7 linked regions of the Homo sapiens genome follow. The protein of the gene in region 6 purifies or fractionates together with the protein of the main gene of each other region. This does not show direct contact. Each region holds a gene or a part of one and is shown on either strand. Other genes may lie near its edges. The genes, in order: HDAC1, SIN3A, RBBP7, RBP1, RBBP4, ING1 and SINHCAF.

Region 1 (3,500 bases), on a different chromosome or scaffold from region 6:
CCTTCTAATTGGTCCCTCTACCTTCAATTCACACTACCTGCCACACTGTCACCAGAGTTATTTTCCTAATCCACAATTCTGATAACATCACTCCTTCGCTCAAAAAATCCTTATGGCTCCCCATCCCCTACAGGATAAAGAGTAAAGAATAACTTTAATAGAGATAGGCATGGTGGCATGAGCCTGTAATCCCAGTTACTCTGGAGGCTGAGGCAGGAAAATCACTTGAGCCCAGGAGTTCAAGACCAGGCTGGGTCTCAACATTTAATAATAATAACTTCAGAAGACTGGCATTCAAGGACTTTCTTTTTTTTGAGACAAGTCTCGATCTGTTGCCCAAGCTGGAGTGCAGTGGTGCAATCTCAGCTCACTGCAACCTTCGCCTCCTGGGTTCAAACAATTCTCCTGCCTCAGCCTCTCAAGTAGCTGGCATCACAGGCATGTGCTACCATGCCTGGCTAATTTTTGTATTTTTAGTAGAGAAGGGGTTTCACCTTGTTGGTCAGGCTGGTCTCAAACTCCTAACCTCAGTTGATCCACTCACCTCGGCCTCCCAAAGTGCCGGGATTACAGGTGTGAGCCACCGCGCCTGGCCAGCATTCAAGGACTTTCTTTTACTTTATTTATTTATTTTTTTGAGACAGAGTCTCGCTGTGTTGCCCAGGCTGGAGTGCAGTGGCGCGATCTCAGCTCACTGCAAGCTCCGCCTCCAGGGTTCACGCCATTCTCCTGCCTCAGCCTCCCGAGTAGCTGGGACTACAGGCGCCTGCCACCATGCCCAGCTAATTTTTTGTATTTTTAGTACAGACGGGGTTTCATTGTGTTAGCCAGGATGGTCTTGATCTCCTGACCTTGTGATCTGCCCGCCTCGGCCTCCCAAAGTGCTGGGATTACAGGCATGAGCCACCGCGCCCGGCCAAGGACTTTCTTAATCTGCCTTTCCAGCTTCATCCAAGGACTTTCTTAACCTGCCTTTCCAGCTTCATCTCCTGCTACCACCCTTTCCCACAACACACACACACTCACTCTCTCTCTCTCTTTGCTCTAGACTGGAGTAGGCAAACTATGGCCCTTGGGACAAATACAACTAGTTGCCTGTTTTGGTAAATAAAATTTTATTGGAACACAGCCATGCCCATCCGTTTACAGTTCCTCTATGGCTGTTTTCACACTACAGTGGCAGAGCTGAGCAGTTTAGTTGCCACAGACACCCAAGCATATGGCAAAATAAAGCCTAAAATATTTACTATCTGGCCCTATATAGAAAAAGTTTGCCAACCTGTGCTCCAGACACACCAGATTATGATCAGTATCCTGAACATGACATTCACCTTCACACCACAGTATCCTCTGTGCAGACTATTCCTTTGACCTGAAATGTCCTCCTTTCTTTGATGATGCTCATACTACAAAGCCCACCTCAAGCTCCAAACCCTTTCTTGATCAAAATAAATGGTCTTTTCCTCTACATGCAATTTGTATACAGCACTTCATTAGTTTTCTTTTCTTTTTTTTTTTATTTCTTGAGACGGAGTCTCACTCTGTCGCCTAGGCTGGAGTGCAATGGTACTATCTCGGCGGCTCAGTGCAACCTCTGCCTCCCAGGTTCAAGCAGTTCTCCTGCCTCAGCCTCCTAAATTGCTGGGATTACAGGTGCGTGCCACCAAATCCAGCTAATTTTCATATTTAGTAGAGGTGGGGTTTCACTATGTTGGCCTGGCTGGTCTGGAACTCCTCACCTCAAGTGATATGCCCACCTCAGCCTCCCAAAGTGCTAGGATTGTTTTATATCTGAATTATTTACATGACTATATCCACAAGACTGGGTACCCCTTGAAGGCAAGGATTAATATGCCTTGTATATCACAGAGGCTCAATAAAGATTCAATGAATTGAATTGAGACTCAGAGAAGTTAAGTGCCTGCTCAAGATCACACAGCTAATGACTGATCTGGAGTCCACTCTTCGGACTCCAAATCCAATATGCTAAAAGCTACATTGGATTTTCCTTTTTTCTTTTTTTTTGAGACAGAGTCTCGCTCTGTCGCCCAGGCTGGAGTGCAGTGGTGCGATCTCGGCTCACTGCAAGCTCCGCCTCCAGGGTTCACGCCATTCTCCTGCCTCAGCCTCCCAAGCAGCTGGGACTACAGATGCCTGCCATCAAGCCCGGCTAATTTTTTTTGTACTTTTAGTAAAGACGGGGTTTCACCGTGTTAACCAGGATGGTCTTGATCTCCTGACCTCGTGATCCGTCCACCTCGGCCTCCCAAAGTGCTGGGATTACAGGTGTGAGCCACCGTGCCAGGCCCTACATTGGGCTTCTCAGGTACCTACTTCAGTTTGCACTTAATCTAGAGGGCTCTATAAGTCTACCTGATAGAAAATTCCTTGAACAATGTTGCAAAATCAAGTGAACTACACACCCAAAGATCTCTCCTTAGAGATTTATTAGGATGAGGCAGAGCTCTAGGCACCCAGTGAAAAAAAGGCATGAGCCTTGATCCCTAGCAACTCCCTTGCCTATCAAGCCTAGATCCAGCCAAGGCTCAGACCTGGGGGACTAAGATATCTTATCCAGAAGGTTAAGGGAGTATCTGAGGTGAGGGTAGTGAGGGTGGGGCTCTGAGACAGCATCCTTTTCTTTTTATGTTTTTTTTTGTTTGATGTTTTTGTTTGTTTGTTTGTAGAGATGGCATCTTGCTTTGTTGCCCAGGCTGGTTTCAAACTCCTGATCAGCCTTCTAAAGTGCTGGGATTACAGATGTGAGCCTCCAACAGTGCAGGCCAACCATCCTTTTCTTAACAGTTTTTAATTAGTTTGCCAACCCGTGCTGTGTGTATTCCTATACACATTGACAAATGCTATGACAGGGGAGCACACAGCATGAGGGACACTGTCCACTTCCTTAGAATTCCACCCTGGATCCTCTTCTATATAACTTCTTGGGTGACTGCATCCTTTATGATTAAATTTACTGTAATTAAAATAAAGATATATCTCTATATCTTAATCAGGTTGCTGAGAGACTTTAAAAGAAATGGTCCTTTTTATTTAGGTACTACTTAATTTTAATTTTTATTTTTGGAGACAGAGTCTCACTCTGTCACCCAGGCTGGAGTGCAGTGGTGCGATCTCAGGCTCACTGCAACCTCTGCCTCCCAGGTTCAAACAATTCTCCTGCCTCAGCCTCCTGAGTAGCTGGGATTACAGACATGTGCCACCACGCCTGGCTAAGTTTTGTATTTTTAGTAGAGTCAGGGTTTCACCATGTTGCCCAGGCTTGTCTTGAACTCCTGACCTCAAGTGATCCGCCCACCTCGGCCTCTCAAAGTGCTGGGATTACAGACGTGAGCCATGGCGCCAGCCATACTTTAAACTCTTAAAGAGCTTTCCCATCATTGTTCTCATAATAGGAACTCCTATCATTTTGATTTTATAGGAGAGAAATCTGAAATGTAAGGTGACTTGCCTGATATTACAAAGCTTCTCAATGGCAGAGC
Region 2 (3,500 bases), on a different chromosome or scaffold from region 6:
AAAAAAGATTACAAGTCATCTTAAATCCTCAAAAATTGGTACAGGCACTGGTACTGCCTGCCACACAGACCTGGATATCTACAATGGGAGCTCCAAACATCTTTCAAGAGAAACATAATACATTTTCTAAAAATCTGTCTTCTGCCCCAAACTGCTTCATAAAACCAAAGCAAACAATGCTACCATTTTTCTAGCTATGCTAATAGTACTAGCAGACTCAAAGGACTCACAACTGGGAAACTATGTTAAAAAACAGAAAGTCCTAATTAGCCTGACACCTTTAAAACGAAACCTTCCAGGGGGATAAGATGATTTTCTTTTGGCATTAACAGGCACTATCAAATCTAACTCATCCATTACTCACCTTATCAAAAAATAACGATTCTGTTCCACCACCATGTTTGCTGGCATCTGCCATAGAAGAATCCTTCAGATTGAGCAGTTTGGGTTTCTTCTGCAAAAGAAAGATACAAACATGTGAGATTCAACGAGTGGTTTTCTCTGAATTTTATTTTTGTCTGTATTCAATGGTTTCATCACTGAAACCACTGCTGATTAATAATTTGAAACAAATGAGAGAACTCTAACCAACTCACTCCATACCCTCTAAGATTTCAACTCATATTTTCTATTTCAGTTTGCCTATTAAGTTTCTTTCTACAACAGAGGTTCAAAGATCATTCTACCCCCAAAATATTTTCTCCAGAAATGATCATGACATTACTGTGACAAACTTTTAGAATATCCTTACTTTTTCTAGGGGCCCAAAGTAACTTCATGTAGAATCTAATGCCACTGTTTTGTTCTCCTACCAGCTGAGGGAGAAAAGGCTGTTTGTAAAAAGAGCTCACAAATTGACAGAAATCAATCTTTAACCCTGAATAATATTTCAATTAAAAATTTACTTAAAAAGCATAATTTGCTGGGCATGGTGACTCATGCCTGTAATCCCAGCACTTTGGGAGGCCAAGGTGGGCAGATCATGAGGTCAAGAGATTGAGACCATCCTGGCCAACATGGTGAAACCCCGTCTCTACTAAAAATACAAAAAAATTAGCTGGGCGTGGTAGTGTGCGCCTATGGTCCCAGCTACTCAGGAGGCTGAGACAGAAGAATCGCTTGAACCCAGGAGGTGGAGGCTGCAGTGAGCCGAGATCACGCCACTGCACTCCAGCCTGGGCAACAGAGTGAGACTCCATCTCAAAAAAAAAAAAAAAAAAAAAAAAAAAAAGGCACGCCAGCAATATCCACTCAGACTAATTTAATATTGTTCTTCTAAAGGGAACCAACAGGCCATGATATAATCCTGTCAGGCAAGAAGTTACTTTTAAAATCCACCACTTACTCTCTATGAAGAAATGCACAAACTTTGTGAGAAGTAGCACATTTACCTTGGCTATCTCAGAGTATACTTTCTTAAGAGCCGCAGCCTCTGCTTACACTGCCTATGGAGAAAGTAGGCGGAGAATTTTAAGCCCCCACTATATTCTTGCCACCTGTAGGTAATCAAGAGTGGGCGGACGTAAATCCAAGCATGGAGTGTATCTACTGAGCTGATTCTTGCTACCCATATAACTAATTCTCTTTATTGAAATGAAGAAATAGAAACCATTATTATGTTCAACTTGATTTCAAAAGATTTCAAAAGAAGAAACCATGACAAACACTAATGAAAAGGATACTTCAAAAGTGTCAGTAACACCTAGTACGTCAGACCTTGTAGTCAGTCAATCACTATTCATCAGCCACCTCTTACTATTAGAAATTCCCAAACTTTTGTCATTATTTAATTCTGCAGACATATCTGTCTCTTCTATATTACATACTGCTTTGAAATTCACTGAAGAATTAAACATTCAATACATACAACTAGCCCTCTCCCTATCATAGCTGTGTTACATCAAAGAAGGGAGCAAGCTAAGTTTTCTGCAGGCAGACCATCAGTGTTAACTATAACAAAAAACATCATGTAATGGATTACTAAGAGGAGTTTAAGACTTCCCTCTGCTACAGCCCAAAGGTCCTGCCTTGGAGATTAAGATGATACACATAAGATCTGGTAACCCAACAAAGAACTTTGAGCAGGACAGGGTTCTAGACCAGAGATCTCAAAAAACACATGCACTCTACTCACAAGAGGACCTCAGAGACCACTTATTTCTGAAATAATTCTCAAGCTCAAGAATGTTCTTTCTTAACACAAGGCAGATTTAAAGCATCAAAGAAGAAGGGGCCAGGCGCGGTGGCTCACGCCTGTAATTCCAGCACTTTGGGAGGCCGAGGTGGGTGGATCACCTGAGGTCAGGAGTTCAAGACCAGCCTGGCCAACATGGCGAAACCCCATCTCTACTAAAAATGCAAAAATTAGCTGGGCGTGGTGGCACACGCCTGTAGTCCCAGTTACTCAGGAGGCTGCGGCAGGATAATTGCTTGAACCCGGGAGGCAGAGGTTGTAGTGAGCTGAGATCACACCACTGCACTCCAGCCTGGGCGACAGAGCAAGACTCCATCTCAAAAAAAAAAGAAGGGAAAAAAATTTCAAGTATTGGAAATTCTTAGTAGCAACCAAAACATTAAAGAAATGACAGCTCATTGCAAAGGAGAGATAATAAAGAACTCAGAAAAGTACAGTAATCCAAGCAATCAATGTTATTCTAATACTCTTTTGCAAAGCCAGATAAACTCTGCACTGAGTTTCTGTGACACAATACTAACTTCCTCCAAATATCTAGGACCCAACCGTTAACACACTTAAGAACACATGACTGCCGGGCACAGGTAATCCCAGCACTTTGGGAGGCCGAGGCGGGCAGATCATGAGGTCAGGAGATCGAGACCATCCTGGCTAACACGGTGAAACCCCGTCTCCACTAAAAAAAAAAAAAAATCAGCCCGGTATGGTGGCATGCGCCTGTAGTCCCAGCTACTCGGGAGGGCGAGACAGGAGAATCGCTTGAACCCGGGAGGCAGAGGTTGCAGTGAGCCGAGATCGTGCCACTGCACTCCAGCTTGGGCGACAGAGCGAGACTCGGTCTCAAAAAAACAAAAAAAAACAACAACAACAAAACACATGACCACCTCTAGAGTACCTCTCCATTAGAAATACTTGTGAGTGTCAAAATGAGCAGCTGCTGCCCATTCTCACCTTAACTGGAGGGGTGGTTCCTGTAGGATGTCTGCGGATCTGGCAGCCATTCTGGCTGGGCCTCTGCGGCTTGTTGTTCAGTTGGGGCTTCTTGACAGTGCCTCCATGATCATTTCTCACAGAATCAACCTTCTCAGCAGTTGTTTTGCTTAAAAGCTGATTAAGACACATGAATGAGATTAATGCTCTTATCAAAGCAAACAAATATCATCTAGGAAAAGTCCCCTTCTGAGCACAGTTTTCCAACTCATCTAAGATAATAATAGTAAATAGTGTAATTCTTATTAAAAAAACATACCACGGAGCTGTTGGCATCTGGTAGGAATTGTCCAAACTCTGACAACAAATCTTCCTG
Region 3 (3,500 bases), on a different chromosome or scaffold from region 6:
CTTGTAACATAATTCAAAATAGCCCCAAAGTAGAAAGAACTCAAATGGTTCATCAACTGACAAATAAGCTAACTGTGGTATATCCATACAGTGGAATATTGTTCATCCATAAAAAGGAATGGAACATAAGTAATGTTACTTGAAAACATTATGCTAAGTGAAAGAAGCCAAACAGAAAAGGCCATATATGAGATTCCATTTACATGAAATACCAAGAACAGATAACTCTATAGAGACAGAAAATAAATTAGTGCTTACCAGGAGCTGGGGGAAGGCAGGGAATGAGTGGGGAGTCACTGCTTAATGGGTATGGAATTTCTCTTTCAGAGAGCGAATGAAAACATTCTAGAATTAGTGGCAATAGTTGTGCACCTTTGTGAATATACTAAAACCCACTGAACTGTACACTTAAAAAATACTTTATATTAATCAGGTCCCACAAACACTCTACAGTTTCCATTTTAAGGGCCTGGAGGGTCCTCTTTTAAATAATGGGAGGCCTTTTGCCTATGCTCCCTCCATTCTAAGGCTACTTCAAAAGAGCTCTGTGGAATCCGAAGACTCATACAGGGCAGTATGAAAACCATCTCTCTAAAGTCCTGGGGGAATGTTACCACAATAATCAGCAGTATTATCTTAGAAAACCTTTCATCTATATAGTACTCCTTCAGCACAGCTGTGACACGTCAGCTCTCACTATATGAACAAATTACAAAGAATACGTTTCTCACATGGTCATCAGATGCACTTAGGAGATGTCCACTCAAATTTGAATTCCAGGAGAGACCATAGCCTTCCTTCTGGTGACCTCTTAATCTGAGATCAGGATTACATTCTCCACTTGGGTCTAAGAAAAGATGAAAAACATTAAGTTATTCTCTGTTTATCAGAACTGGTGAGAATAAATTCTCACTCCTTCATTGAGTGAACCATTACAGCAACTGCACACGAACGAGATCTGGTCTTTAATACCCAATGCAAATTGAGCCTCATGACCATTAGATGATTGGTTTCTTTGGAAAACCTAATACTATCCCCAACACAAAAATATTAAAAACTATAGCTATCCTACAAATTTGGGCAGTGGTGACCGTATCCCCGCAACCCCCCAATTTTTTAGAAATATTTCTAACACAACAGGTCTGGTTGCTCAGTCCTTGCATGCCTCTAGGGTAGCCTGCAACCATAAATGACCCTTGGCCAACCCCTGGGAATGTGACCCTCAGAAAGTTCTTCACGTCACTGACTGATAAAGTTTTGTAAGCCCAGAGCAGTGGGGTATGCCATAGGGACCTGTCAAGACTTGTAGGATTGTTTAGCAAGATTCACAATGTATTTGGCTTCACTATTGGGGTCCTCAATTTTGTTACCATGGCTGGTCATAGAACAGGATGTGCCCACGCCAACAGACCTCCACAAAAATCCCAGATTCTGAAACTCAAATGGGCTGCCCTGGGTAGAGACATTTAGCACATGTTCCTATGGTTTGCTGCTAGAGACAAAACATGTCCCACGTGGCCCTGGATGGGAAGGACTCAGACGCCTGTAGCTAACCCCTCTGGACTTCCCCTGATGTGTATCTTTTTCTTCCTACTCTTGCTCTGGATTCTTTGCTGTAATAAACTTTAGCTGTTAGTATAAGCTGCTTTTAGGTAGTTCTGGCAAATCCCTGAACTTGAGGATGGTTATGGGACCCCCAAAGCAATTTTTAAACCTTTAAATATTATAAAGTATGCTACTTTGACCTTAAAAACATTACCAGTTTGAATCAAGAAAACTGCTCAAGTAATGACCTAACTCTATTATTACATACCTGGTTTAGCAGGGTGTTTTGTATAGTCAAAAACCAACACATCAGAAGATGGTGTTTTTGTAGCAATGATGTGAGGATTCTGCGGCATGTAACGAGCACGGTTTACTTCTCCTTCGTGATTGATTTTAATTTCACATTCAATTTTTCCTGTTACAGAACCAAAGCCACCAAATTCTAATGTGAGGAGAAAGAAACACACACACACACACTCAGGATTAAAATTCACAAATCACTTAGTTCAATCAACCTAACAGATTTTGACCTGGCAGAATACAACACAAACTGACAAGACAAAGACAGAAACATGCATAGAGAAAACCCAAAAATGTGGGTTCATTTGCCACATCAATTTATTCTTAAAGCCCATTTGCACTGGAAAATATTGGTAGCTGCCTTATGCAACTTAATTCAGTTCCACCTTGGATCTAAAACAACTGTCCTCTTTCAGTTATGAAGATGATATAGTTATTCACTGAAATTTCAAGTAACCATATAATAAGCAGACCAATAGCTTTTTAGTTCAAATACAACTCACTGTAAGTACTGCACTGAATTAGCATCTTATTTTAGGATTCATCAAAACAGGAAAGGTTTTAACCCTCCACAGTATGAACACCCTTTGAGTCTGAAGTCAGAAGCATCCTCAAATCAATCAGAAACCCACGCTAACCCCTACCTGTCCCTAAACACACATACATTGGCCCTGCCAGCATACTTGGTTTAACTGCTAGTGCAGTGCCAAGGTTAACCTCTCCGCCCATCTGGTGTGTGAATAAGACTATAGTATTAAATAATCATGAAAAAGGCCTTGTAAAGTAACAAAGTCATATAAAAAGTACGGTAACTTCCAAGAAGTAGCAACATGTTAGCAGAAAGAATACAAGTAGAGAACATCTAAGCAAATACAGCAAACAAGAACATTCTTTTTTGTGCTCATAGATAAAAAAACCTGAATTAGTTGCTGACGCTTAAAAAGATAGGAGGGTTCACATTACAATTGTGTTATTCTTCCTGACCTATATTGCCTTTTCTTTGCACATTCCATTTTAGCTCACCCTGTGTCTCAGGTCAGGGACAACTAACACAAATGCCTACTGGAGCCAGACAGGTAAGAAGTAAAATAGACCGGGGCCTGGAGCAACCACCAAAAGGAGCAAACCATTTCTCAGTTCCAGGCAGCTCCTTCTATGTGGAATGCTTAATGAACACTCGCTTCCATGTCTTAATATCAGTATCTAGCCGTTCCTCTCTGAAGCAAACATAGCTTACTATTTCAGTGTGGTTGAAAAAACCGTATCTCAAATCCACGATTACTCCAAAGCTCCTCTACCCACTACTCTCATGTGACCACATGCAAAAGGATCCTTTTTCCTCGTAGCACCTTCTGTTCCATGGTGTCAATGGAAGAAATGTGCCTCGGCATGCTAAGACCCCTCCTGATCCAATCGTCTCCTCCCTCCTGAGACTGCTCCAAATCTGCTCCACTTTGACCTTCAACATCCCATTCCATGGACTCCAGTGGCTCTAACCCTTCTGCTACAAAGATACTCAAGTTTCCTGATTCCTTTAGCTAAAACAACCTGAAGAGCTCTCCTTTAAAAAAAAAAGGGGGGGGGGCGGGGCTTCCAAGTAGGATTTACTTTGAACACAGAGTTTTGTTTTCTCAAACTTAAAATTTTGAAAAGTC
Region 4 (4,033 bases), on a different chromosome or scaffold from region 6:
ACCCTGGGGAAGGTGGTGCTAGAGGGGAAGAAAATGTTATCTGCTGTCACTTAGGCTGTGATTTGTGCAAAAAGCGATTTAAAAGAGGTAGTCAAAAAGAGGGTCAAAAAGTCAGCCCATGTGATTATGTCATCTACTTGGTGGCAAATGCAGTTAAACCACAATGACATACCCACGCAGGTGACAAAGGAGATGTGATCAAAGATTTTCATTGCAGTACTGCTTTTAATAGTGAAAGATCAGAAACAATATAGTTTGTCCATCAGGGGACAAGCTGGATAAGCAATGGAATACTCCGTAAAATAATGGGGATACTTTCTATGTACAGCTATGGAAAAGTCTCCAGAATATATTAAGTGAATAAAGCAAAGTCCAGAACACCGTGGAGTACAGTGCTGCCATTAGGTGAAACGGGAGGAAACATTAATAAACAGTATATTGCTTACATTTGCATAAAGCAGCAGTGGATCTCAAAGTTGATTGTGCATCAGAATCACCCAGAAGGCTTTTTTAGCCACATGCACTTCAAATAACATCAACTATTTTACTTATTTATTTATTTATTTATTGAGCCAGAGTCTCACTCTGTCGCCCAGGCTGGAGTGTAGTGGCACGATCTCGGCTCACTACAACCTCCTCCTCCCGGGTTCAAGCTATTCTCCTGCCTCAGCCTCCCGAGTAGTTGGGACTACAGGCGCCCGCGACCACGCCCGGCTAATTTTTTGTATTTTTAGTAGAGACGAGGTTTTACCGTGTTGCCCAGGCTGGTGTCGAATTCCTGACCTCAGGTGATCCGCCCGCCTCGGCCTCCCAAAGTGCTGGGATTACAGGCGTGAGCCGCCGTGCCCGGCATCCTTTCTTTTATTTTCGGGAGAGACGTGGAAAGTGCCCCAATTTTCTCGCCCGTAGTTGAACCTCCCAGCTTTCCTGACCCCAGCCACCACCGGCGCGAGGCTTTAGACAAAGGCCTGTAAGTGGCCTCTTTCCTTAATCACGCCAGCACAAACCCCAGGAGATTGTTTCCCAACTCCCGAGTGGCTGCTGAGTGTGAGAAGTTAATGGCGTTTGAAGGAAATCCCCAGCAGCCGAAGAGTTCGGCCAACAAAGCAAACGTCCCGTCTCCGGTCTCCTCTTCCTTTGTAGGGGAAACGAACTGAACGTCTGAAACGAAGGTGGCGCGGCCTGGACAAACCTGACCCTTCGACATCCCCCGCCCCTGCGCCCGCCCTCGCTAAGCGGGGAGGAGCGACCGCTACAATGGATCCTCCCGCAGGCTTTGTGCGCGCTGGGAATCCAGCTGTCGCCGCCCCGCAGAGCCCCCTGTCCCCGGAGGGCGCTCATTTCCGGGCCGCCCACCACCCGCGTAGCACCGGCAGCCGCTGTCCCGGCAGTCTCCAGCCGTCCCGCCCGCTTGTGGCCAACTGGCTCCAGTCACTCCCCGAAATGCCAGTCGACTTCACTGGGTACTGGAAGATGTTGGTCAACGAGAATTTCGAGGAGTACCTGCGCGCCCTCGGTAAGCGCTGCCCGCTGCGCCCTGGGCGCCCCGCCGAGCAGCTCCGGGCCGCTCCCTAGAGCCCTCCCGAGACGCTGCCTGCCTGCCTCCATCCCGGCGAGCCGCGGTCCGGTGCCCCCGGACGCCAGAAAGGGCGTCCTCGGCCACCGCTCCCAGGGCAGCCCCCAGGCTGCAGATTGGAGAATTCGGGGTTGTTAGGTTAACCGGTGGCAAATGTCTGCTCGTTGGCCCTGGAGGTGGGTAATTTCATTAGTAAATCTGGGGCTTGGTTTGCTACTTTTTGTTTTTAAACGGTTAACATAAGAGCAGAAAACTTTGTTGGGGGCGGCAGGGGAGGCACAGGCAGGCTGTGCGCAGAGACAACGCAAAGCCAGCGGGAACCCTAACAGTGTTCGCGGGCGGAGAGGGCTCCTGGGGCCCCGCTACCTTGGGAACGGTTCTCTGAGTTTCCCTGCCAACTCTCTGGCGCTCTCTCTCTCCCCGTTCAACCCCCACCGCAGACGTCAATGTGGCCTTGCGCAAAATCGCCAACTTGCTGAAGCCAGACAAAGAGATCGTGCAGGACGGTGACCATATGATCATCCGCACGCTGAGCACTTTTAGGAACTACATCATGGACTTCCAGGTTGGGAAGGAGTTTGAGGAGGATCTGACAGGCATAGATGACCGCAAGTGCATGGTGAGGATTCGCGTCCACCTGGTGTCTCCTGCCCAGGGGGCCTGACCAAGGGCTGGGCTAGTTCATCCGAGAGGGGGCAAGGGCCTGAGGGACTGAAAACTCTTCCCACTCTCAGCCCCCATGGTGGGCAGCACCAACTCATGAAGCATCCTGCTCTATCTACACTGGAAGGTGATGGTTATGAAGGCTGCCATGTGCTGTGTCTCCACTGCGTTCAGGCACTCTGCCCGGTGCTTTATGCACATGACTTCACCTAAGCCTCACACAGCCTTTGAGGGAGATATGAATATGCCCATTTTACAGATGAAGAAACAGTCTCAAAGAGATGAAGTAACATGTCCAGAGTAGCACAGCTAGGGAGGGTCTGGAGTTCAAAGCATGTCTGTTGATGCCGTTCTCTGGCTGACTGGGCTGGTGGAGGGTAAAAGAAAAGAAAGGAGGAAAGAAAAAAGAAACACAGGTAACCCCTTTGAAGTGTAAACTTTCAGTATGACTTAGTGTGAAGTCACTCCAGGAAGCTGGGGGCCCCTTGATCTCTGCTGGAAGCCCCCTGATCTGCCCATCCTTGCCCCAGAGCTGGGATTTGGCTCCTGGCCATCCCCTGCCCCACCCTGTCATCCAATGCCTACTGAGCATTCTTTGAACTTTGCAGCTGACACCTATTCAGTAAGTCAGGGCCCCTCCAGCCCAGACCAGAGGAAACAGCAGTGGGGGAAGAGGGAGGGCCAAGAGCTCCCTTCCACAAGGGTGGGAAACTCCTGACCCAGGACATCCCAATTAGTACTGCCACAGCAGATGCCGGAAGGCCAGCCCCAGGCCTCCATCAACATTATCTGGTTGCTGGGAGGTCAAGGTACTCTTGTTCTCCCTTTATAGTCTTGGGTTCAGAAGTGGCTTATGTTCATCCCAGGAGCCACCTTGCTTATTGATGGGGTCCTCACCCACCACCTCCCACCATTTACCAAGGGTCTTTACCGCTGGTCTGCTGTGTGTCCAGCACTGTGCTAGTCATCTTACAGCACAGCACAGTGAGGGAGGGATAAGTAACCCCATGTTATGCAGTGACTGAGGCTCAGACAGAGGAAGAGACTTGTAAGAGATGAGACTTGAGCCCTGGGCCTTCTGATGTTGAAGCCCACAGTCCTGCTTTCTGCCAGCTTCTCTGCTGGTAGTCTGTGCAGAAACAAGATAGCTGAGGTCTGTTAGGATTGTAGTTGAAGGGATGCCCATGTCTGGGAATAGGCATCTGGAGCCTGGATGACTCATCCCCCCACCTTGTCTATTCATCTGAAGGCAGTCAGGATTGGTATCTGAGTCTGCTGTTTGGAATGATGGGAAAGAGGGGGTAGTCAGCAGGGAGTGGCCTTGGAAGGACCACTAATGGGAGAAAACACCATTGTTGCAGAGAAATGTCAGGTTGTGCCTTTAAAAATCTCAAGGACTCTTAATCTGCAGGAAAGACTCACAATAGGAAAGGAGACCTTCAGATGGCATCTGCCTTTCTCATTACTGCCCAAGACCTGCTCCCCGGCACACTGCATGGAACTTTGCTCCTTAAGAATAATCCTTACCCCCACTCACTATTGTGGAACTCACAGATCACATCGAACCTTTATTTTGGGTCACCACAAATCTGGCATGTGCTGGCTTGTACTAATTATCTTCACTCTTTCCTTCCTTTCTTCATCCATTAACACATGAAACATTTATTGATCACCTAGTAATACTAGCAAATGCAGTACTCATCAAGTGCTTACTGTCATGCCAGATGCTATTCAAACGTTACATTAGCTGACTTAATCTTCACAACACCCTTTCAAGCCTCATTTTACAGATAA
Region 5 (3,500 bases), on a different chromosome or scaffold from region 6:
TCAAAAAAAAAAAGAGATGAGGCCTCGCTATATTGCTTCTAGGCTGGACTTGAACTCTTGGGCTCAAGGGATCTCGCTGCCTCAACCTCCTGCGTAGCTGGAGGTGTGTGCCATGTGCCCAGCATCATTTTATCTTTGGAAACATCACATCTTGTCTGTTCTTGTGGGGTGATCTCAGTTCACTGCAATCTCCTCCTCCCATGTTCAAGCGATTCTCCTGCCTCAGCCTCTTAAGTAGCTGGGATTACAGGCGTGCACCACCATGCCTGGCTAATTTTTGTATTTTTATTAGAGACGAGGTTTCACCATGTTGGTCAGGGTGGTCTCAAACTCCTGACCTCATGATCCACCCGCCTCGGCCTCCCAAAGCGCTGAGATTACAGGCATGGGCCATCGTGCCCGGCCTACATCTTGTCTATTCTTATTTGCTAATTCTGGCCTCTACCCAAATGCAATCCAATTCTGACCTAAGAACTAAAGTACAGATGACATATACAATAACTATGTCCCCAAGTATTTACTATGAGTTCTGTATTACATATAAGTCTGATTAAAAATGACTCCATGCAATAATTTTATTAAAGAGTCAGACAAAAAATTTACTACTATATATCCAACAATCAGAGTTTGCTACCAAATATGGTAAAAGTGCTACCTAGCCTTAAGGTACAGAAAAAGAGGGCATTAGTGACCAGCAATTAAGGAAGAATTTGGATTCTGTCCAGGCAAGAATACCGTCACAAGCAAAGCAAAGAGATAGGGTAAGGATAAAATGTTCACCAAGGTGGGCTGAAAAGTAGAAAATAAGAGACTAAGTATGTAGGAGTATGGCTCACCTAAAGCCCAGTTCAGACGCCACCTTCACACACCAGAATTAATCTTTACCACCCTCAGGTTCATAACACTTGACAAAATCTTTTATTATAGTAATTTCTAAACAAGCCCTCCCTCACTATAAAATTTTGGGCTCGGCTGGGCGTGGTGGCTTACGCCTGTAATCCCAGCACTTTGGGAGGCTGAGGCAGGAGAATCCCTTTAGCCTGGGAAGTGGAGGTTGCAGTGAGCCGAGATTGCACCATTGCACTCCAGCCTGGCCAACAAGAGCAAAATGCCGTCTCAAAAAAATTAATTAAAAAAAAATAAAAAAATTGGGGGCTCCTTGATAGCAAAGGCTACATAACGTAATCTTTCATAGTGCCGTAGCAACAAGCTTTGAACATAGTGCAGTGATTATTTCTTTTTTTAATTTTTGCAATCAGACCTGGGCGATAACCTTGAGCAGGATATAAACTCCCACATGCTTAGCGTTCCAATAATGGAACACTAGGCATAAATGGGTTTAAACTGATGAGGTAGAAAATATGGAGCCAGAGGTTGAGGCTTGGGTTGAGAAATCAACACATGTGGCAAGTAATGAAGGATGAAGAATATATTGGAAGAAGGGAAGAGATCACTAAGTGTCAGAAACAAGGCTGAAAAAATAATCAGGCACTAGTTTTCCTTTCTTTGTAAATTTTTATTAAAAAATAGACAGGGTTGGCCAGGCTGGTCTCAAACTCCTGGCCTCAAGCAATCCACCCATCTCAGCCTCCTAAAGTGCTGGGATTACAGGCATAAGCTACCATACCTGGCCTAGTTTTCTTAATATCTGAAGAATGTAAGTGGTCAATAACCAGTTTGAGAAAGTATAGAAATAACAAAGAAAAAACAATTCCCACAGAAAGTAGCATAGGCATATAGATTTCTATTTTTAGCAACGGCATAAAGCACATGTGTGCCCACTCATACATCCAGGTTTTTCTTTTTTCTTTTTTTTTGAGACGGACTCTCGTTCTGTCGCCCAGGCTAGAGTGCAGTGGCACAATCTCGGCTCACTGCAACCTCTGCCTCCCGGGTTTCATGCCATTCTCCTGCCTCAGCCTCCCGAGTAGCTGGGACTACGGGCATCCGCCACCATGCCCGGCTAATTTTTTATATTTTTAGTAGAGACAGGGTTTCACCGTGTTAGCCAGGATGGTCTCGATCTCCTGACCTTGTGATCCGCCCGCTTCAGCCTCCCAAAGTGCTGGGATTACAGGCGTGAGCGACCGCGCCCAGCAGGTTTTTCTTAAAACAAACAAAATAGTAGCATTAGTTTCTCTTACCTGGAATATTTCATCCTTATGTGACTCAAAGGAATGCAACTTAAGTTTCAGATTTCTCAGATCCCACAAGGCAACAGTCTATGTACAAAAAGAAAAGCAAGAGTAATCAATTTTTTAAGAAAAAAAAAATACTGTAAGTAAAATATCTCTGCAATTCAAAAAAACCTAGAGAAATTATGTTTTCTATTAAAATAAACGAAACTGACCTTGTCAGCTGATCCTGTGGCAAGAATGAACTCACTATAAGGATTGAAAGAAAGGCAGTTCACTTCAGCAGTGTGAGCATCAACTGAGTGGCTTGGTTTGGAAGTATTGTTTGAACGAGTATCCCAACTTCAGTGAAAAAAAAACAAAGGAAAAAAACCTTGAAATGGTGACTAAACATAAAACTTAGACAAGATATTTAGAAACTCTGAATGGATTCTACTCACATCATAAGTTTCTGATCATCAGCAACTGACCCAAACAGAGACTCATGGAGTAGATGCCAGGAAACATCTTCTACTACTGCCGTATGCCCTGTAAAGATGGTCTTCGCATCTACCACTTTTCCCTCCTTTGGAACGGCACTGATGTCCCACAGGCAGATGGTCTTAAATGTAAAATTAACCATTATATAAAAGGAAGATTCTCACCTCCCCACACACCCCAAAAAAGAAACCAACTGGTAACTAGCCCAGATTTGCTTCAAAATGGGAAGGATACACACATGGTCATCTGAAGCACTAAGTAAGTGCCCACTGAGATTTGGGTTCCAAGAAAGCCCATAGCCTTCCTTCTGATGTCCACGGAGACGCAAGTCTGGGTTGCACTCTCCAGAAGGATCTGCAAAGTGACAGACACATCAAGACTACCCAGTCCACTGGCTCTCTGGGCCTACTGAGCATAATGGAATTTTGGTCAAGATGTCTAAAGCTCTTAACATTTATAAATGATATAGGAACCGTTATGATCAAATAGATAATGCTTAAACAGCACCAGTATTTTGTTCTATGTAAAAAAGCATTATTTTTTCATGGAGGCAAAATGAAGAAAAATATACACATATCAATACAAATCACAAGATGTTAAATTACACAGAGTAACATGCAATTAAACTCACAGTGAGTGGAACCATGTATTTCTATAGTGACTCATTTGTATTTGAATAGAAAAGGGCACATACCTGGTTTAGAAGGATGTTTTGTATAGTCAAAAACAAGAACATCACTGGAAGGAGTCTTTGTTGCGATGATACAAGGGTTCTGGGGCATATAACGGGCCCTGTTTACTTCTCCTTCATGGTTGATCTTGATTTCTATTTCAATTTTTCCACTAACTGAACCAAAACCTCCAAATTCTGTGAATAAATTAATT
Region 6 (3,500 bases):
CGGGAGGAGGGGGACTAAACTCAACCTAACACATTAAATGTGGAAGGAAAATATTTCATTTAGCTTTTTTATTTTAATACAAGTAATATTATTACTTTATGAACAATTTTTTTTAATTGGCCATGTCGCCAAAAATACAGCCTATAGTAAATGTGTTTCTTGCTGCCATGATGTATATCCATATAACAATTCAGTAACAAAGGTTTAAAGTTTGAAGATTATTTTTTAAAAAGGTAAATGGTTAAATTTTACATGACAGATATTTTATCTATTGGCCTGTTCCCCAAATGGCCATTTTAAAATGCTTGGGTACACTTCTCTTAAGTGGTCTAGTCAAGGAACCTCAAGTCATGCTTTTGCTATCACCAATCATAGTGTACCCATCTTTAATTTATATCAGGTGTATAAATGTACATTTCCAAATGAACTTGCACTTGTTATATTATAATTGGAAGTGCAGTCAGCAGATGCTGTTGTGAAGCTAATGTCACAATTATGTGCAAAGGTGTGCTTCCTGCTGTATGTGAGCTGTAAAAATGTTACGTGAAGAAATAAATGAAACTTGGCCAGTTTGTTCCTCTAGTAGTATATTTAATTTTGACATAAGTAACTTTTAAAATTTGTCTTAAAAATTTATACACCAGCAATTTAGACAAAGCCTTAAGCAAATTTTGTATTATTGTTCTCACTTATTATTAATAATGAAGTAGAAGTTACTTAATTGCCAGCAAATAAATACGTGTCAAAAAAGAATCTGTATTCAGACCCTGGGTCAGGAAATTACTGCCCACTTGTCAAGTTCAGCCCACCATCTGTTTGAAGATTATATGAAGTTTAAATTCTAGTGTCCATAAATAAAGTTTCAGCGGAACACAGCCGTGCTTATGTGCGTATGTATTGTCTGACTGCTTTTGCAAAACGGCAGAGTTCAATAGTTGCACCTGAAACCATTTGACTTGACAAGCCAAAACTATTTTCTGGCCCTCTGCAGAAAGGGTTTGCTGACCTCTGATTTAGACTAGCATCTAACATTGATTTGCCCACATATTGAAAGGGTCAGTGGAGTTTTCATTTATTATTTTTTATTTTTTTGAGATTGAGTTCCAGGCTGGAGTGCAATAGCGCAATCTTGGCTCACCGCAACCTCCGCCTCCCAGGTTCAAGCGATTGTCCTGCCTCAGCCTCCCCAGTAGCTAGGATTACAGGCATGCACCACCACGCCTGGCTAATTTTGTATTTTCAGTAGAGACGCGGTTTCTCCATGTTGGTCATGGCTGGTCTCGCACTCCCGACCTCAGGTGATCCACCTGCCTCAGCCTTCCAAAGTGCTGGGATTACAGGTGTGAGCCACCGTGCCCGGCTGGAGTTTTCATTTTTTTTTTTTTTTTTTTTTCTGAGATGGAGTCTCACTCTGTCTCCAGGCTAGAGTGCAGTGGCCCAGTCTTGGCTCACTGCAACCTCTGCCTCTCGGGTTCAAGCGATTCTCTTGCCTCAGCCTCCCGAGTAGCTGGGACTACAGGTGCGTGCCACCATGCCCAGCTAATTTTTGTATTTTTAGTAGAGATGGGTTTTCACCATGTTGGCCAGTATGGTCTCGAGCTCTTGACCATGATCCGCCCACCTCGGCCTCCCACAGTGCTGGGATTACAGGCGTGAGCCACCGTGCGCTGAGTGATACGTGGTTCCCTTTAACTTCGCACATGGTAAAATCAGTTTCTTTCCATGATCTGTTTCACAGTCTCTGTGAAGCTACCTACCACAAAGAAGTAGTGAGTGATGACTTTCTAGAATCTAAGTATATGGCATGTATTTATTATAAGTAAAACATTAAGTTTGCTGATTGTTTACTTGTGATAAACAATTATTGTGAACTTTATTTGTGCTGGACATAAGTGTCTGTTTTACAGTGAAATTCCATTATAGAGGGTTACTTGGTAGAGAAATGCAAATTGTAGTTGGTCATATACTAAAATTTGAACTTTTTACATATCAATACTTACAAATAGGTGTTTATTTTCCCACAAAACTCCAGAACATTTAAGAGTCTCGGGTGTTTAAATTTGATGAGATTTACCCAAACAAATAGTGAACAAAAGGTTTATGAAAATAAGTTATGAAACTAAAATACTTAATAAACATCCAGTGACAATAAAAATAGCTTGAGTCTTTGCTTATATAAAATTTCATGCTAATTTTTCACTTCTATATTAATTGGAGGTAATAATGCAAATTAAGTTATAGAAATGAAGATTCAATGAAATGCAGTTGCTCATCCTGGATTTCTTCATATTCAGTTTTGGTGTAGACAACTGGTGAAGAGAGATGGCTCAGAGGCCAAGCCTTGCAATCTAGGAGCCCAGCCCTGTCCTTTAAGGGCTTGATCTTGAATAAATTGCTTAACAGTTGGTCTATAGTTCTACACTTTTAAAGTATGTTTCACAGAGGGTGGTTCCAATAAATAAATGCACTGGCATATTCAAATGTTGGATAATTTTTCTCTAGCTTTCTTCAAGTTTCTCATAAGGACAGGTGGGTAGCCACTTATTCTTTAAAAAAAAATAGATACAATACAGAGTCGTGTTGGACTGGCAGTCTTAAATCACTCTTGTTATTTCCAGTGGACATTAAAAAAAAATCACAGATAAGTACTTAAAACACTCAAGATTTGGGATTTAGATCATGATTAGATACAATAGAAAGATCCTGGAATCCCGACATGAGGACAAAAATGGTACTGAATTCTTTTTGAAAAATAGATTACTGAAAAGCGATCTAATATAGAACAGTTGCTTTTACTTAGATGTTCAATGCATATTTGTTGTATAATAACCAAGTTATTACAGTTCAGATAAAGGGTCCAAAGTGTTTTCGTTATGATATAATACTTTCTATTGTAAACTGGACTAAAGAAACGTTGTATGTTCAAGGAAGTGTTGAGCAGCCATGGTGTTCCTGGGACAGGCTCCCCAGGTGCTGAGAGAGGTGCTGCAGGAGTCACAGACCTGCAGGCACGCACTTGCCAGTGACTGGGACGTTGGCTGGTGGTTCTCTTTTGGTGTGATTAGAGCTATGTGAGTTGTCTCAATACTTGAGACTGTCGGTGGTTGCCAATGCTGAATAAAGCATTTATCAAAGTAAAAGCCATTTCCTCTTATTATATATTATTTTAGAAAGAGTACACATTTAGTTGTGATATCCTTTTGTAGTTCACATTTATGTAGTGTTCCAGGTAATAAGTTACCTGGAACTTACCTGAACACTTCAATATTTCATTAAAGTATTAAATCTTTTTCTTAGGCAAAATGATTAAGAGCTTCATCTGTGCACTTCTAAAGACATGATGTGCTCTCGAGGACATCTAGCTTTTTTCCTTCTATCTAATGTAATTTATGGCTCTAGAATCCTTGGCATATATGGAGAGAGGTTTTATTGATACTGTCTGCCTCCCTCTCCATTTTAGCGTGTAGAATGTGCCTCTTTCATCGCAGAGTCCAGGCAGT
Region 7 (3,500 bases), on a different chromosome or scaffold from region 6:
TTCCACATGAATAACCATGTTGTTCTTAATATCCTAGCAACACTTATTGAACAGACCATTTTCGCCCACCAATCACCCCCACATCATGTATCACATAACAAGTGCTATATACATATGTGGCCTTGTTTCCAGGCTCTCTATACTATTCCATTGGTTTATTTTTCTATTCCTAGTCCCAAAACACATTAATTACCATGGCTTCATAATATGTCTTGATTTCTGTTAGGGCAAGTTTATCCACATCTTTCTTTTTCTTCTGAAGATGCCTATTTTGGGCCCTTTGCTTTTCTATATAAATTATAAATTAGCTTGTAAAGTTCCATAAATATGTTGGGATTTTGACTGCAATTACCCTGAATCTACAAAGTGATCATCTCCCTAACAGTCAGTTTAATAATATCTATGAATGTGCTATACCTCTCAATTTATTTAGGTGTCTTTAAATGTTATTCAACGGCCGGGCGCAGTGGTTCATGCCTGTAATCCCAGCACTTTGGGAGGCCAAGGCGAGCAGATCACCTGAGGTCAGGAGTTCACTATCAGCCTGGCCAGCATGGTGAAACCCAATCTCTACTAAAAATACAAAAATTAGCAGGGTGTGGTGGTGCATGCCTGTAATCCCAGCTACTCCGGAGGCTGAGACAGGAAAATCGCTTGAACCCAGGAGGCGGAGGTTGCAGTGAGCCAAGATCACACCACTGCACTCCAGCCTAAGTGACAGAGTGAGTCTCTCTCTCTCAACATAGACATATATTTATATATATACATACACACACACACACACACACACACACACACACACACATAAATAAATGTTATTCGACAATATTGTATGATTTTTACATAACTCCTCCAAAGGGCTTTTGATATTTTACTACATTATTTTATATTTCCTAACACTATGATAAAATGTATCATTCTAATGCCAAACTGCCTAGATTTAAATCCTGCTCTACTTACTATGTAACCTTAAACAAAGTACTTCCTCTTTGTACCTGTGTTTTCACATAATGCTTCACAGAATTGTCATAAAGACTAAATAAGGCCAGGTGCAGTAACTCACACCTGTAATCCCAGCACTTTGGGAGGTCAAGGCAGGCAGATCACTTGAAGCTAGAAGTTCAAGACCAGCCTGGCCAATATGGCGAAACCCCATCTCTACTAAAATACAAAAATTAGCCAGGCATGGTGGTGCGTGCCTGTAGACCCAGCTATTTGGGCGGCTGAGGTGGGAGAATTGCCTGAGCCCAGGAGGCGGACATTGCAGTGAGCCAAGATAACACCACTGCACTCCAGTCTGGGCTACAGAGTGAAACTCTGTCTCAAAAAAAAAAAAAAAAAGATTAAATAAATGCAAACAAAGTGGTTTAAAGTACTTTAAAGTACTTACACTATGCACTAGGCACTGTTCTAAAGTGTTTACTACTACACTACTACCAATATTGTATTGGTTAGAACCTTCTGTATAATGCTGAATAGAAATGGTGATAGTCAACACTCTTGATTTGTTCCTGATCATAGAGAAAATGCTTTCATTTTATCACAATTATGTATTATGTACTTTTGTCCTTTTTGTAAGATACCTGTTGTCTAAGTAAAAAAGTTTCCTTCTATTCCTATTTTGCTAAAACTTTTTTTTTTTTAAACCTTAAAGGAATGTTCAAATTTGTCAAACTCCTTCTTTGCACCACTAAGAAGACAACACCTTCCTTTAGAAACTATCAATGTGGGCTGGGCACGGTGGCTCACGCCTATAATCCCAACACTTTGGGAGGCTGAGGCAGGTGGATCACCTAAGGTCAGGAGTTCGAGACCAGCCTGACCAACATGGTGAAACCCCTTTTCTACTAAAAATACAAAAATTTAGCCAGGTGTGGTGGCCATGCACCTGTAATCCCAGCTACTCGGGAGGCTAAGGCAGGAGAATCACTGAACCCGGGAGGCAGAGGCTGCAGTGAGCAGAGATCGAGCCATTGCACTATAGCTTGGCAACAAGAGCAAAACTCCGTCTCAAAAAAAAAAAAAAAAAAGAAACTGTCAATGTGGTAAATTATATTAGTTGATCGTCTCATGTTCAAACCAATCTTACATACCTAGAATAACCCTAGTGGCTGATGATATATTTGTTTTGGTATCAAACTTATATCAGCCTTAAAAATGCTTGGGGCCTATGCCCTATTTTATCCATAGTCTGGAAAAGCCAGTGCATAGGCTCCAATCATCTGTTCCTGGATGTTTAGTACAACTTGCCTATTGTGGTTTGTTTGTTTGTTTGTTTGTTTTTTTAAATAGAGTCTTGCTTTATCACCAGGCTGGAGTGCAATGGTGCAAAAATAGCTTACTGCAAACCTAACCTCCTAGGCTCAAACAATCCCCTCACCTTGGCCTCTCAAAATGCTAGGATTACAGGTGTGAGCCATCACACCTGGCCTGAATCAATTTATTATGAGATTATCTCCGTTTTTCACTTTTTCTTGAGACAGCTTTAGCAACATGTCTTTTTTCTAGTACTGTACCTGCTTCACCTGTATGTTCAAATTTATTGGCATCAAGTTGTCTATAATATCCTATTATTTTTTAAATGTCTGCTTTATCTATACCTAAGTCTCTTTTCTCTTTCCTAAAATTGCTTATGTGTATTATCTCCTTTTCCTGATCCACTTTATCTCTAGTATATTTTTGGTCACGTCTTTTTGAAGGACCAACTCTTAGTTTTACTGATTCTCTCCACTGCATATTGTCTTTCTACTCCACTTATCTAGCAATAGGCAATGTAGGTACCTTGATGTGATTTTTATTTTAAATAAATTTTAATAGGAAGAACATACAAAAATCCCACTTCCCTGCTCAATTCCTGCTTAATCCACTGCAATCGTGTGTTACCAACTGTTTGCCAAATGCCATTTAATTGCTAAGGAAGTAGAAAAATACTGCCCATAATTAAGATGGTTTGCTGGTTAGAGAGATACTTTGTTTCTTTTACCTTTTCCAGTAAGTGAGATCTAAAAAGGAAAAAACTGGTGTTCTGTTAGAACCAGAAGCCATCTCTGTATCTGAGCCGTCATCTGACTGGTTACTGTAACAAGGAGATTGAGCTGGGGAGGCACTTGAGGTGGTACTGTGAGCATCAGAATCTGCAATAAAGATTAAGAGAAAAAATAAAATTTTCAATTTCATTACATGTAATTGCAACTAAACCTCAGCATAAGACACTGTGAAAGAGTTGGTAAAAAAGAAAAAGTAAAAAATAATTCATTTTCTATGCACTACTGATATTTGAAGATATTCAGACTAACGTGTTTTTTAAAGAAGTGAAGAAGATGGAATAGACATACTTCCTATTCCTCCTGCTTATACAACTAAAATCCCTGGATATTATATATAAAACAAACCTGAGACTCCAAAAGGTGATGATCATCTAGGGAGCTCAAGACCCAAGGCAAGCCATGGTGGTAGGTTCCTTAGTTTTTCTGGATTTTCCTTTTGCCTCATAATCCCCA

What was found.
Region 1: the proteins of ING1 (region 6) and HDAC1 purify together in Homo sapiens (affinity purification with mass spectrometry; 9 studies listed by BioGRID and IntAct, with this or other methods). This does not show direct contact.
Region 2: the proteins of ING1 (region 6) and SIN3A purify together in Homo sapiens (affinity purification with western blotting; 5 studies listed by BioGRID and IntAct, with this or other methods). This does not show direct contact.
Region 3: the proteins of ING1 (region 6) and RBBP7 purify together in Homo sapiens (affinity purification with mass spectrometry; 7 studies listed by BioGRID and IntAct, with this or other methods). This does not show direct contact.
Region 4: the proteins of ING1 (region 6) and RBP1 purify together in Homo sapiens (affinity purification with mass spectrometry, with the first as the bait; 2 studies listed by BioGRID). This does not show direct contact.
Region 5: the proteins of ING1 (region 6) and RBBP4 purify together in Homo sapiens (affinity purification with mass spectrometry; 6 studies listed by BioGRID and IntAct, with this or other methods). This does not show direct contact.
Region 7: the proteins of ING1 (region 6) and SINHCAF purify together in Homo sapiens (affinity purification with mass spectrometry; 3 studies listed by BioGRID and IntAct, with this or other methods). This does not show direct contact.

Annotation. Positions count from the first base shown.
Region 1 is NC_000001.11:32,298,583-32,302,082, reverse strand, and holds part of HDAC1 (histone deacetylase 1), read right to left. Parts: intron 1-3,500. UniProt on the Homo sapiens protein: Histone deacetylase that catalyzes the deacetylation of lysine residues on the N-terminal part of the core histones (H2A, H2B, H3 and H4).
Region 2 is NC_000015.10:75,406,691-75,410,190, forward strand, and holds part of SIN3A (paired amphipathic helix protein Sin3a), read right to left. Parts: coding exon 3,444-3,500; intron 3,302-3,443; coding exon 3,146-3,301; intron 455-3,145; coding exon 365-454; intron 1-364. UniProt on the Homo sapiens protein: Acts as a transcriptional repressor. Corepressor for REST. Interacts with MXI1 to repress MYC responsive genes and antagonize MYC oncogenic activities. Also interacts with MXD1-MAX heterodimers to repress transcription by tethering SIN3A to DNA.
Region 3 is NC_000023.11:16,856,863-16,860,362, forward strand, and holds part of RBBP7 (histone-binding protein RBBP7), read right to left. Parts: intron 1,988-3,500; coding exon 1,814-1,987; intron 848-1,813; coding exon 732-847; intron 1-731. UniProt on the Homo sapiens protein: Core histone-binding subunit that may target chromatin remodeling factors, histone acetyltransferases and histone deacetylases to their histone substrates in a manner that is regulated by nucleosomal DNA.
Region 4 is NC_000003.12:139,536,943-139,540,975, reverse strand, and holds the start of RBP1 (retinol-binding protein 1), read left to right. Parts: upstream 1-1,233; 5' UTR 1,234-1,257; coding exon 1,258-1,516; intron 1,517-2,016; coding exon 2,017-2,195; intron 2,196-4,033. UniProt on the Homo sapiens protein: Cytoplasmic retinol-binding protein. Accepts retinol from the transport protein STRA6, and thereby contributes to retinol uptake, storage and retinoid homeostasis.
Region 5 is NC_000001.11:32,668,208-32,671,707, reverse strand, and holds part of RBBP4 (histone-binding protein RBBP4), read right to left. Parts: intron 3,484-3,500; coding exon 3,310-3,483; intron 2,970-3,309; coding exon 2,854-2,969; intron 2,737-2,853; coding exon 2,576-2,736; intron 2,478-2,575; coding exon 2,351-2,477; intron 2,223-2,350; coding exon 2,145-2,222; intron 1-2,144. UniProt on the Homo sapiens protein: Core histone-binding subunit that may target chromatin assembly factors, chromatin remodeling factors and histone deacetylases to their histone substrates in a manner that is regulated by nucleosomal DNA.
Region 6 is NC_000013.11:110,720,200-110,723,699, forward strand, and holds the end of ING1 (inhibitor of growth protein 1), read left to right. Parts: 3' UTR 1-3,140; downstream 3,141-3,500. UniProt on the Homo sapiens protein: Cooperates with p53/TP53 in the negative regulatory pathway of cell growth by modulating p53-dependent transcriptional activation. Implicated as a tumor suppressor gene.
Region 7 is NC_000012.12:31,284,651-31,288,150, forward strand, and holds part of SINHCAF (SIN3-HDAC complex-associated factor), read right to left. Parts: intron 3,135-3,500; coding exon 2,984-3,134; intron 1-2,983. UniProt on the Homo sapiens protein: Subunit of the Sin3 deacetylase complex (Sin3/HDAC), this subunit is important for the repression of genes encoding components of the TGF-beta signaling pathway.